3 linked regions of the Homo sapiens genome follow. The protein of the gene in region 1 interacts with the protein of each later gene in a pairwise test. Each region holds a gene or a part of one and is shown in the gene's direction. Other genes may lie near its edges. The genes, in order: SGPL1, STX8 and MARCHF5.

Region 1 (3,653 bases):
GGAAAGGGGATTTGTTAATCTCCCCTATCTCCTACATCCCCTTCATTCGCCTCTACCCCGTGCAGTAATTTATCACCCAGAAATAACCGCTGTGAGCATCTTGGATGGTTAATGCAGAGTGACTTGTAGCAATTGACAGTTTCTGTTTATCCTCTTACAGAAGGATATGTTTATGTAAATTATAGGTTCTTATATGTAAGATATTTCCCCATGCACAGAGATATGGTTATTACTTATAGGGCCTATGCATTTACTTTAACAGAACAATGACTGCTTTTACTCGGAATATTAACTTTGGAATCAGTTTTCTTTTGAGGTATTTCTCTAGCTGTTGCCACCACCTTTCACCTCCTCACCTGTTAATTTAGAATGTTTAGGAGTGTTGCTTTGCTTGTTGCTGTAAGGAATTAATCCACATAGATGCGAGTGGCCCTAGGCAGTCATCACTTTCTGAAGACAACATACATGTTGCATGAAGTGCTTTCACTGGAAAAGTTGTCATTCATTCCTTGACTGTAATGTATAATGCTATTTGGAACTAACTGGTAAAGAACCAATAACCATGGCTGGGTTTTCAGTGGCACACTAACCCATCATTCTATGAGGTGTTTCTCAAGCTACTTTATATGATATGTAAAACATGTTCTTGGCCCTCCACCTGGGAAGAAAGGACCTAAGTGAATAAAAAAATAACCTCAGTGCAGTGCAGCATCTCAGAATTAGAAATAGTCTTAGAAGTCATGGGATGCAGCTTTTTTTTTTTTTTTTTTTTTGAGACAAGGTCTCACTCTGATGCCCAGGCTGGAGTGCAGTGGCATGATCTCAGCTTACTGCATCCTCAATCTCTGAGGCTCAGATGATCCTTCCACCTCAGCCTCCTGAGTAGCTGGGACGACAGGCACATGCCACCATGCCCGGCTGATTTTTGTATTTATTTTTTGTAGAGATGGTAGTTTGCCATGTTACCCAGGCTGGTATCTAACTCCTGGGCTCAAGGGATCCAACCGCCTGCCTTGGCCTCCCAAAGTGCTGGATTACAGGCATGAGCCACTGTACCTGGCCTGTGATGCAGCTTATATTATACATGAATCTGTTGAAGAGTATCTCTGGTAAATGGATATCCAGTCTCCCGTCTTTTCTGCTAATGGAATAAGTGAGCAAAAGCTAGGAAACAATACAAGGTGGATTCAGGAATAGTAATGTTAACTCTGATAGCTAACATTTATTGAGCATGTATTACATGTTAAGTGTAGGAATACTGTACTTATTTAATTTTCACAAAAACCTTTTGGTATCCTTCTTTTACAGATGAAAAACGAGGCTTATAGAGAGTAACTACAGCAGTTGAGTGGTGGAGCCAAGTTTGACCTCAGTTGGTCTGACTTCAGATCCCTCCCTCTTGCCTACTTTGTGTCCTTACCCCTGGTAAGGGTAGAGGTTGCTGACCATTGTGACTGATGGGAGAGGGTCTGTGTGGAGCAGATGGGATAGGATAGCTCCACCCTCTAGGGGGCACTTTGGCAATGGGGGACTGGGGGAGGAGGGAGTCTTTTTTCTTCTAGTGTAGTCTGAAAATACATGTTTTATTATTAAATTATTATTAAATCTTGTTTATTGGGTCAGGCGTGGTGGCTCATGCCTGTAATTCCAGCACTTTGGGAGGCTCAGGCGGGCAGAGTACTTGAGGCCAGGTGTTCTAGACCAGCCTGGTCAACATGGCGAAACTCTGTCTCTACTAAAAATACAAAAATTAGCTGGGCATGGTGGCGTACACTTGTATTCCCGGCTATTTAGGAGGCTGAGGCAAGAGAGTTGCTTGAACCCGGGAGGTGGAGGTTGCAGTGAGCTGAAGCTGCACCATTACACTCCAGCCTGGGCGACAGAGCGAGACTGTCTCAAAAAAAAAAAAATTTGTGTTTTATTTTCTTTTACGTCGCATTTAATGAATTATATTGAAATTTTAAAACTTGTATCTGCAGGCATAGTGTTATAATCTTTAAATGCCATGTCAGAGTAGCAAAAGGGATTACAGAATATTTGTTATAAAAAGAGGGCATTGGGTCATAGAGTTGAAGACTACTTGTGTGGACAGTATGCTGTGAGAGAAAACCTGGAGATGACCTGGAGTCCACATATAACAAGCCTTGAATCCAGACTGACAGGCTCGGGCTATCAGCCCTCAGTGTGTTCCTGCCCTCAATTTTGTTATCATTTGATTAGGATAGTTTGCTTGCCTTTTTCCATTTGCTCGTATGTGATGTGTCATAGACTGCAGTACTTTCCACCTGTGTCTCATAGAGAATAAAATGAGTATGTTCATCTGCTGAGAGTTGTGATGATGTCAGAGGGAATTCAAGTCAGACAGCTTTGTAGCAGCCTTTCTCCCCCTTGGCAACCATTCTTTTTATTCATACTCTCCTCCTTGGTGCTAGAGGGTGGTATCACTTTGCAAGTTGCCAAATATTTGTAGTTTTTAAGAAAAAGGTATTTTATAAAGCCAGTCTACCCCTTAGGTGGCTTTTTTCTTTTCTCATCAGAAAATGATGACTAAATTAGCTGATATTCATAGATGAATCAAGGTTAGCGTGTGCACCCTGGTAGTGCTAGGTGGGGTTTGAGTGATAATTGCTTATCTAGGGCAGTGGTTCTTGACCAGGGGCAATTTTGCCCTCTGGGTGACATTTGACAATGCCTAGAGACATTTTGGGTTGTTACACCTGAAGGGTTCTGCTGGCATCTAGTGGGTAGAGGCTAGGGATGCAACCAAACACCTTACAACGCACAGTTTCCTGCAAACAAGAATTATCTGGCCTAGAATGTCAATAGTGGTGAGGTTGAGAAACTGGTATGAAGTTTCTTACCATAGATACCTGGATATCTGTGTAGTCTATGCTTTCATATGGGTGGGGGAGTGATTCCCTTCTTGGAGGTTAACGTGTCTGTTATTGTCTCACTTGGGGTTATTTTGCCCATGGGTCAAGCCTTGCTGCTCAGGAATATATATTGGAGATGGTGCAGCTGATCTTTTATAGCAATGCAGAATTCTTAAGAAATGCTGTCCTTTGCAACATTTCTGCACCACTCTTTTCTTGATTTGCAAACAGCAAGCTTCCCTCAGTTTTGTTTTTTGGGTTCAAAAATTGAATCTTTCCAGGTCCTTGAGCGTCTTTATCTGTGACCCTTGACTCTTTTTCAGGGATGCTTTCTTTCTGAATCTCAAGTGGGATTTAAGCAATAAACTGAAAGATTGACCTTAGGAGCTCTGTTCTATTATTTGAGCCTTGTGTCTTGTTTGTAGGATTTGCTAGAAGAAAGGGAAAATTCATTGGGATTGTTGATAGGACATTAAAAAATTTGTTGACATTTGAGTGGCCATTGCAGGATGAACACTGTATTTGGCAATCTCCCAGTGTTATAGATGAAACAGAGCTGTAATAATTTCCACAGCCTTTGGTTTAAAGGAAAAGAGGGTTATAAACAGATAGAATCCAAATCCCAGTATTTGACTTAGCTTTTCAGTCTATGTGTCAGGAATTTTTAGTAATATTTACCTTCTTAATTAGGTTTTACCCAATCTAATATTATATACAGTTTGTGCACATTGGTGGCAGAATTGAGAATCAGCCTGGGTTTAAGAATTTCCATAGGGAATT
Region 2 (3,653 bases), on another chromosome or scaffold:
AGTTGGTTGAACCTGTTTGCATTCCTATCAAGAATGTATGAGGTGGCCGGGTATGGTGGCTCATGCCTGTAATCCCAGCACTTTGGGAGGCCGAGGTGGGTGGATCACTTGAGGTCAGGAGTTCGAGACCAGCCTGGACAACATGGTGAAACCCCATCTCTACTGAAAACACAAAAATTAGCTGGGCATGGTGGCATGTGCATGTAATCCCAGCTACTTGGGAGGCTGAGGCAGGAGAATTGCTTAAACTCTGGAGCTGGAGGTTGCAGTGAGCCAAGATCATGCCACTGCACTCCAGGCTGGGCGACAGAGGGAGACACTGTCTCAAAAAATAATAATAATAATAAAGAAAGAATGTATAAGGTCAGGTGAAGTGGCTCATGCTTGTAATCCCAGCACTTTGGGAGGCAGGAGGGTCACTTTAGATTAGGAGTTTGAGACCAGCCTGGCCAACATGGTGAAATCCTGTCTCTCAAAAAAACCCACAAAAATTAGCTGGGTGTGGTGGTGGACACCTGTAATCCCTGCTACTTGGGGAGCTGAGAGGAGAATTGCTTGAACCCAGGTAGTGGAGGTTGCAGTGAGCCAAGGTTGCAACACTGCATTTCAGCCTGGGATGATAGAGCAAGACTCCATCTTAACAAAACAAAACAAAAAAAAAAAAAAGAAAAGAAAAGAAAAGGAAAGAATGTATGAGAGTGTCTGGTTCCTTGTCCCTTTCCAAAACTGTCTTCTCAGTTTCCTAATCTGATAGGTGGAAGTGGTATCTTGTTTTAGTGTGTATTTCTTTTCTTTTCTTTTCTTTTTTCTTTTTTTTTTTTGAGACGGAGTCTTGCTCTGTCACCCAGGCTGGAGTGCAGTGGCACAGTCTCGGCTCACTGCAACCTCCGCCTCCCGGGTTCAAGTGATTCTCCTGCCTCAGCCTCCTGCGTAGCTGCGATTGTGCGCCACCATGCCCAGCTAATTTTTGTGTTTTTAGTAGAGATGGGGTTTCACCATATTGGTCAGGCTGGTCTCGAACTCCTGACCTCGTGATCCACCTGCCTTGACCTGCTGGGATTACAGGCGTAAGCCACCACACCTGGCCAGATATATTTTAAAAGTGTTTGTTAGCTTTCTCCACTCATTCATTTTATGGCAGAAGTTGTTTCCAAACATATCCTTTACTGTGTTTCTTTTTTCTTTTTTTTTTTTTTTTTTTTGAGACAGAGTCTCGCTCTTTCACCAGGCTGGAGCGCAGTGGCGCGATCTCGGCTCACTGCAACCTCCGCCTCCCGGGTTCAAGCGATTTTCCTGCCTCAGCCTCCCGAGTAGCTGGGACTACAGGCGCACGCCACCACGCCTGGCTAGTTTTTATATTTTTAGTAGAGACGGGGTTTTACCGTGTTTGCCAGGATGGTTTCCATCTCTTGACCTTGTGATCCGCCCACTTCAGCCTCCCAGAGTGCTGGGATTACAGGCGTTGAGCCACCGCGTCCAGCCCTTCTGTGTTTCTTAACATACCACACACATAGACACAGTTCAGCCTAAAAACAAACAAACAAAAACTTGTGTCTGGGCGCACTGGCTCACACCTGTAATCCCAGCACTTTGGGAGGCTGAGGTGAACGGATCATGAGGTCAAGAGATCGAGACCATCCTGGCCAACATGGTGAAAACCTGTCTCTACCAAAAATACAAAAAATTAGCTGCGCGTGGTGGCACGTGCCTGTAGTCCCAGCTACTCAGGAGGCTGAGGCAGGAGAATCGCTTGAACCCGGGTGGCGGAGGTTGCAGTGAGCCGAGATCGCGCCACTGCACTCCAGCCTGTAGACAGAACAAGGCTCCGTCTCCAAAAAAAAAAAAAAAAAAAAAAAACCACTTTTGTAGTTTGCATCAAGAAAGCTAGTATATAAAACTTTGTACTTAGTCCAAGGGAAGTGGCGCCGGTTGTTGACAGACGCCACTTCCCTTTTTGCTTCATGCGCACGCGCCGCATTCTCGTCCACCTATTGGTGAATTGTAGGTTTCTTTCCAAAGACTACATTTCCCAGAAGGATGGTTGTTTGGTTTTTTTTTTTTAACCATCACTTATGAATTGTTGTGGAAAAGATGTTAGAGACTATTTAGTGTTACATATAAAGAAAGAGAGATCCCAAAAGGTGAAATAACTGGTTCAAGAGCATAGATAGTGGAATAGGGCTACAACTCTGCCTCTGGGGCTCCTAGTCTAGCGTGTTTGCTAGATTCACACATTAAAATGATTCTCTTTGTAATTTTCTTTACAAATCATGCAATGTATTTAAATAGTGAACTGATGGTAACAATTTATAGAGCAAATCTGTTGCATAAAGTAGCACTTTATAAATATCCTAGGTGTGTTAATAGATATTAACATGGAAGAAAGAGAGCAATATAGAGAACTTCTCTCCCCCAGCGCCCCCACTTTTTTAAACAGAGCATCTTAGGGTATTAATATGTAGGAAAATGCCCTGGAACACTGACACACACATATAACTCAAAACCTAAGGAATCACTGAGCCAGGTTGCACCATTGGCAGGAGAAGTCATTTAAATTTGGTCACTGGGGCTGGGCGTGGTGACTCACGCCTTGTAATTCCAGCACTTTGGGAGGCCAAGGCAGGCAGATCACCTGAGGTCATGAGTTCGAGACCAGCCTGGCCAGCATGGCAAAAACCCGTCTCTAATAAAAATACAAAACTTAGCCGGTTGTGGTGGTGCACGTCTGTAAGCCCAGCTACTCGGGAGGCTGAGGCAGGAGAACTGCTTGAACCCGGGAGGCAGAGGTTGCAGTGGGCCGAGATCGCGCCATTGCACTCCAGCCTGGGCGACAGAGCGAGACTCTGTCTCAAAAATAAGTAAATAAGTTTGGTCACGGGGAGGAAAGTAATATTTACCTGGTATATTTCTCAATGAAAAACTTGTGTCATGATCCACGTCAGTGTTTATAAGTGCCTCTGCGATGGTCCTGCCAAGGTCCTTTACCTGACGGCCTGGTGAAGGTGAAGGTCAGAGCAGGAAAAACGCAAGAGTGGTGCGCATCCCTTCTGGGTAGTAGTGATTACAGTCTGTAAAAGCCACAACTGACTTGAAGAGCTAACTTAATAATGTAATAGTTAAAACGAGGTCATTTATTCACCATTGAACCTTAACAAGATATCTGCAGAACACAGCTTGAAGGGGACCGAAGACAGAACCTCTTGGATGATCTTGTAACTCGAGAGAGACTACTTCTGGCATCCTTTAAGAATGAGGGTGCCGAACCAGATCTAATCAGGTAGGATGTTTTTATTTACAGGGATTACTTGGTGGGCGAAGACTTCTTTGCAGATACTACAGCTGTTTCCTGAATGGCTTACTTTAGGAATTAATCAAAATCTATTCTATTCATTTATGGTGTTTGACTATAATTTTCTACTCAATTTAGTTTTCGTTAATTTTTGTTTGTTTGTTTGAGACAGAGTCTCGCTCTGTCACCCAGGCTGGAGTGCAGTGGCGTGATCTTGGCTCTCTGCAAGCTCCACCTCCCAGGTTTCCACCATTCTACTGCCTCAGCCTCCCAAGTAGTTGGGATTACAGGCGCCCACCGCCACCGTGCCCGACTAATTTTTTGTATTTTTAGTAGAGATGGGGTTTCACCGTATTAGTCAGGA
Region 3 (3,653 bases), about 22 Mb from region 1:
AGATGACCACCACCACGCCTGGCTTGTATTTTTAATAGAAACGGGGTTCCACCATGTTGGTCAGGCTGGTCTCAAACTCCTGACCTCAGGTGATCCGCCTGCCTCAGCCTCCCAAAGTGCTAGGATTACAATTGTGAGTCACAGTGCCCAACCCCTACTTCCTTTTTGTTTCCTTATTCTTAAACACCTTATAAGGTTTTTACTGCTACCCATGAGAAACAAACTTCCTCTTGTTCGCTCTAGTCTATACCTGAATATTCACTCTTCTTTATATTTCTAAACCCAAAAAAAGGACACATAACCCGACAAAGGATTTTTTCAAATATTCTGAATTTATTTGCTAACACTTTGAGAATATTTAATCATATTTAGTTATAATGTTAGAGTGATCATTATATTGAAATTTTTAATGATATAAAAATAGAATTTCTTAGCCAGACGTGGTGGCACTCATCTGTAGTTCCAGCTACTCAGGAGGGTGAGGTGGGAAGATTGCTTGAGCCCAGGAGTACAAAGCCAACCTGGGAAACGTAGCAAGACCCTGTCTTTTTTTTTCTTTAAAGGAATTTCCTGGCCGGGCGTGGTGGGTCACGCCTATAATCCCAGCACTTTGGGGGGCCAAGGCAGGCGGATCACCTGAGGTCAGGAATTCGAGACCAACCTGGCTAACGTGGTGAAACCCCATTTCTACTAAAAATACAAAAAAGTAGCCAGGTGTTGTGCCATGTGCCTGTAATCCCATCTACTCAGGAGGTTGAGGCAGAAGAATAGCTTGAACTCAGGAGGTGGAGGTTGCAGTGAGCCAAGATCATGCCAAGACTGAAACTCCGTCTCAGATAGATAGATAGATAGATAGATAGATAGATAGATAGATAGATAGATAGATAGATAGATGATAGATATATAGATAGATAGATAGATAGATAGATAAAGAAATTTCCTGGGAAATCATTATAGGTAAAACAGTCATGGCCAGCTAACTTTTGCTACCATTATGGAATTGGGGTTTATGAAATATCATAAACCAGACCATTTCACTTTAGGGCAACTCAAAAGGATCACCTTCCACATGCAAGATAGGAAGTTGTTAAGTTCTACCTGGAGACACAGAAGAATATCAAATTCGATGACATTATTGACCATTAGGAAGAGGCTAGCCTCCTGCCCTTTAATATTACATCTTAATTAGATAAATTAACCAAGTGGAAATCTGGACTATATCCATAGCTCAAATTTGGTCCTCTCCACACACTTTCATAAAACATTTCTGGGGCCGGGCGCAGTGGCTCACGCCTGTAATCCCAGCACTGTCGGAGGCCGAGGCGGGTGGATCACCTGAGGTCAGGAGTTCGAGATCAGCCTGACCAATGTGGAGAAACCCCGTCTCTACTAAAAATACAAAAATTAGCTGGGCGTGGAGGTGCACACCTGTAATCCCAGCTACTCGAAAGGCTGAGGCAGGAGAATTGCTTGAACCTGGGAGGCAGAGGTTGCAGTGAGCCAAGATCGTGCCATTGCACTCCAGCCTGGGCAACAAGAGCAAAAAATTCCGTCTCAAAAAAAAAAAAAAAATTTTTGGCCAGGCACGGTGGCTCGCGCCTGTAATCCCAGCACTTTGAGAGGCCGAGGCAGGCTGATCACCTGAGGTCAGGAGTTCGAGACCAACCTGGCCAACATGATGAAACCTCGTCTCTACTAAAAATACACAAATTAGCTGGGCATGGTGGCATGCCCCTGTAATCCCAGCTACTCGGGAGGCTAAGGCAGAAGAATCGCTTGAATCCAGGAGCCGGAGGTTGCAGTGAGCCAAGATCACACCACTGCACTCCAGCCTGGGCAACACAGCGAGACTCCATCTCAAAAACAACAACAAAAAGAGGTAAATTTAAGGCCAAGATTGATGTGGAAGTGAAAAGGATTTTGGAGAGAGGGAAAAGGTAGAAGTTCACAAATGCCAATTTTGTATTTCTCGCCTTCTGGGATCTACACCAATTTAGAAATAGCCCCAAGACTAGGATAGGGTAAGGAAAAGATTGTATTAGCTTCATTACCCCCATAGATAGGGTACCCTAGAGTTCCTGAATTGGGAAAAATGCCTGGGATCTGTAACCAAAACTGGACCTCCTACTACAGTCCCTCAATTCTAGACCTTGGAAGTGCACTTAAGGAGGGTTAGGTCTGTAGGGTAGACACTTAGCCAGCCAGAGACATCACACCCTATCTTACACACCACTAAGTAAGGAGAAAGAGCCAAAGAGAAATGAGCTTTCAGGCCATCTCTTGAAGGCCGGTCCTACCTCTTGGCTGGCTATGCTTAATCTCCTAGAAGGAAGATCAGGAAAACAGTTGTTTTGCTGGAAGACAAATAGGACTTAGAATTATATCCCAGTTCCGTAGCCCAGTCTAACCAAATCAAATAAAGGAATAGAAGCAACAATCAGAGGTCCCCGCCCCTCTATTGTAATGTAATCAGTCTGGGTCAGCCATTTTAATTTTTATTCCTGTGTGGTATGAAATGGCTTGGGAACTTTGTTTTTCCCTTGAATGAGACATTTCTTATAAATAAATCAGGACTGATAGCTTTCCAGCTTATTTTTTAAACTTTTTATTTCTGTGTATTCTTTTGAAATTAAGCATTTTCTATTAAAAAAATAGAGCTTAACATGCAACACCTCATTTGAAAAAGAAGTAATTCTAATATATGCTATCTGTTTCACAGGTTGTAGGTCATAAAGAAGGTCTGGATGTTATGGAGAGAGCTGATCCTTTATTCCTTTTAATTGGACTTCCTACTATTCCTGTCATGCTGATATTAGGCAAGATGATTCGCTGGGAGGACTATGTGCTTAGACTGTGGCGCAAATACTCGAATAAACTACAAATTTTAAATAGTATATTTCCAGGTAAGGCACTGAACTGTGGTTGTAAAGTGCATACCAAATTGATCTTGAAGAACAATAACATGCTTTTTTAGCCATGTTTGAAGGTAGTCTAACTCTTCTGATTTATTAGCACTAACGCACTGCATTTTTTTCCTCTAGGGATAGGTTGTCCTGTTCCTCGAATTCCAGCTGAGGCCAATCCTTTAGCAGATCATGTCTCTGCTACTCGAATCTTGTGTGGAGCCCTTGTCTTTCCTACTATTGCTACAATAGTTGGTAAATTGATGTTCAGTAGTGTTAACTCTAATTTACAAAGGACAATCTTGGTAAGACGGCTTTAACATTACTTATATTACCTTGCAAAAGAGAATGAAGTGTATTTGTTTTTAAAAGGTGGGGAACTGTATAAATATTCGGTCTGTGGCTCCTATGCATTAAGCCTCTATTTGAGCCTCACTATCATTCAATAGCTTGAGTGGAAATAAAAAGAGGAGAAACCACTGCAGCAGTTCTGGCCTTTTGGAACTATGTTGTAGGTGCTTTCTCTCCTGGCATATGCATGAATCATCACACCTGTCCCTCTTGCCAGTGGGATTACAGTACTTTACGATCAGACCACCTGGTTCAAATCCCATCACAGAAATTGTCTTGCTGTGAAATCTAAATCAAATGTCTGGACTTTTTGTTCCTGTAGTATGGTGATGGTAATAATCAGGATTATTGTGAGGATTGTATAAGTACTAGCACATAGTAAGCACTCATGTTGTTTGC

What was found.
Region 2: the proteins of SGPL1 (region 1) and STX8 interact in binary tests that used the Homo sapiens proteins (3 or more experiments, as listed by UniProt).
Region 3: the proteins of SGPL1 (region 1) and MARCHF5 interact in binary tests that used the Homo sapiens proteins (3 or more experiments, as listed by UniProt).

What each region holds. Positions count from the first base shown.
Region 1 is NC_000010.11:70,818,876-70,822,528, forward strand, and holds part of SGPL1 (sphingosine-1-phosphate lyase 1), read left to right. Parts: intron 1-3,653. UniProt on the Homo sapiens protein: Cleaves phosphorylated sphingoid bases (PSBs), such as sphingosine-1-phosphate, into fatty aldehydes and phosphoethanolamine. Elevates stress-induced ceramide production and apoptosis.
Region 2 is NC_000017.11:9,544,796-9,548,448, reverse strand, and holds part of STX8 (syntaxin-8), read left to right. Parts: intron 1-3,166; coding exon 3,167-3,277; intron 3,278-3,653. UniProt on the Homo sapiens protein: Vesicle trafficking protein that functions in the early secretory pathway, possibly by mediating retrograde transport from cis-Golgi membranes to the ER.
Region 3 is NC_000010.11:92,346,630-92,350,282, forward strand, and holds part of MARCHF5 (E3 ubiquitin-protein ligase MARCHF5), read left to right. Parts: intron 1-2,719; coding exon 2,720-2,903; intron 2,904-3,041; coding exon 3,042-3,208; intron 3,209-3,653. UniProt on the Homo sapiens protein: Mitochondrial E3 ubiquitin-protein ligase that plays a crucial role in the control of mitochondrial morphology by acting as a positive regulator of mitochondrial fission and as an important regulator of immune response.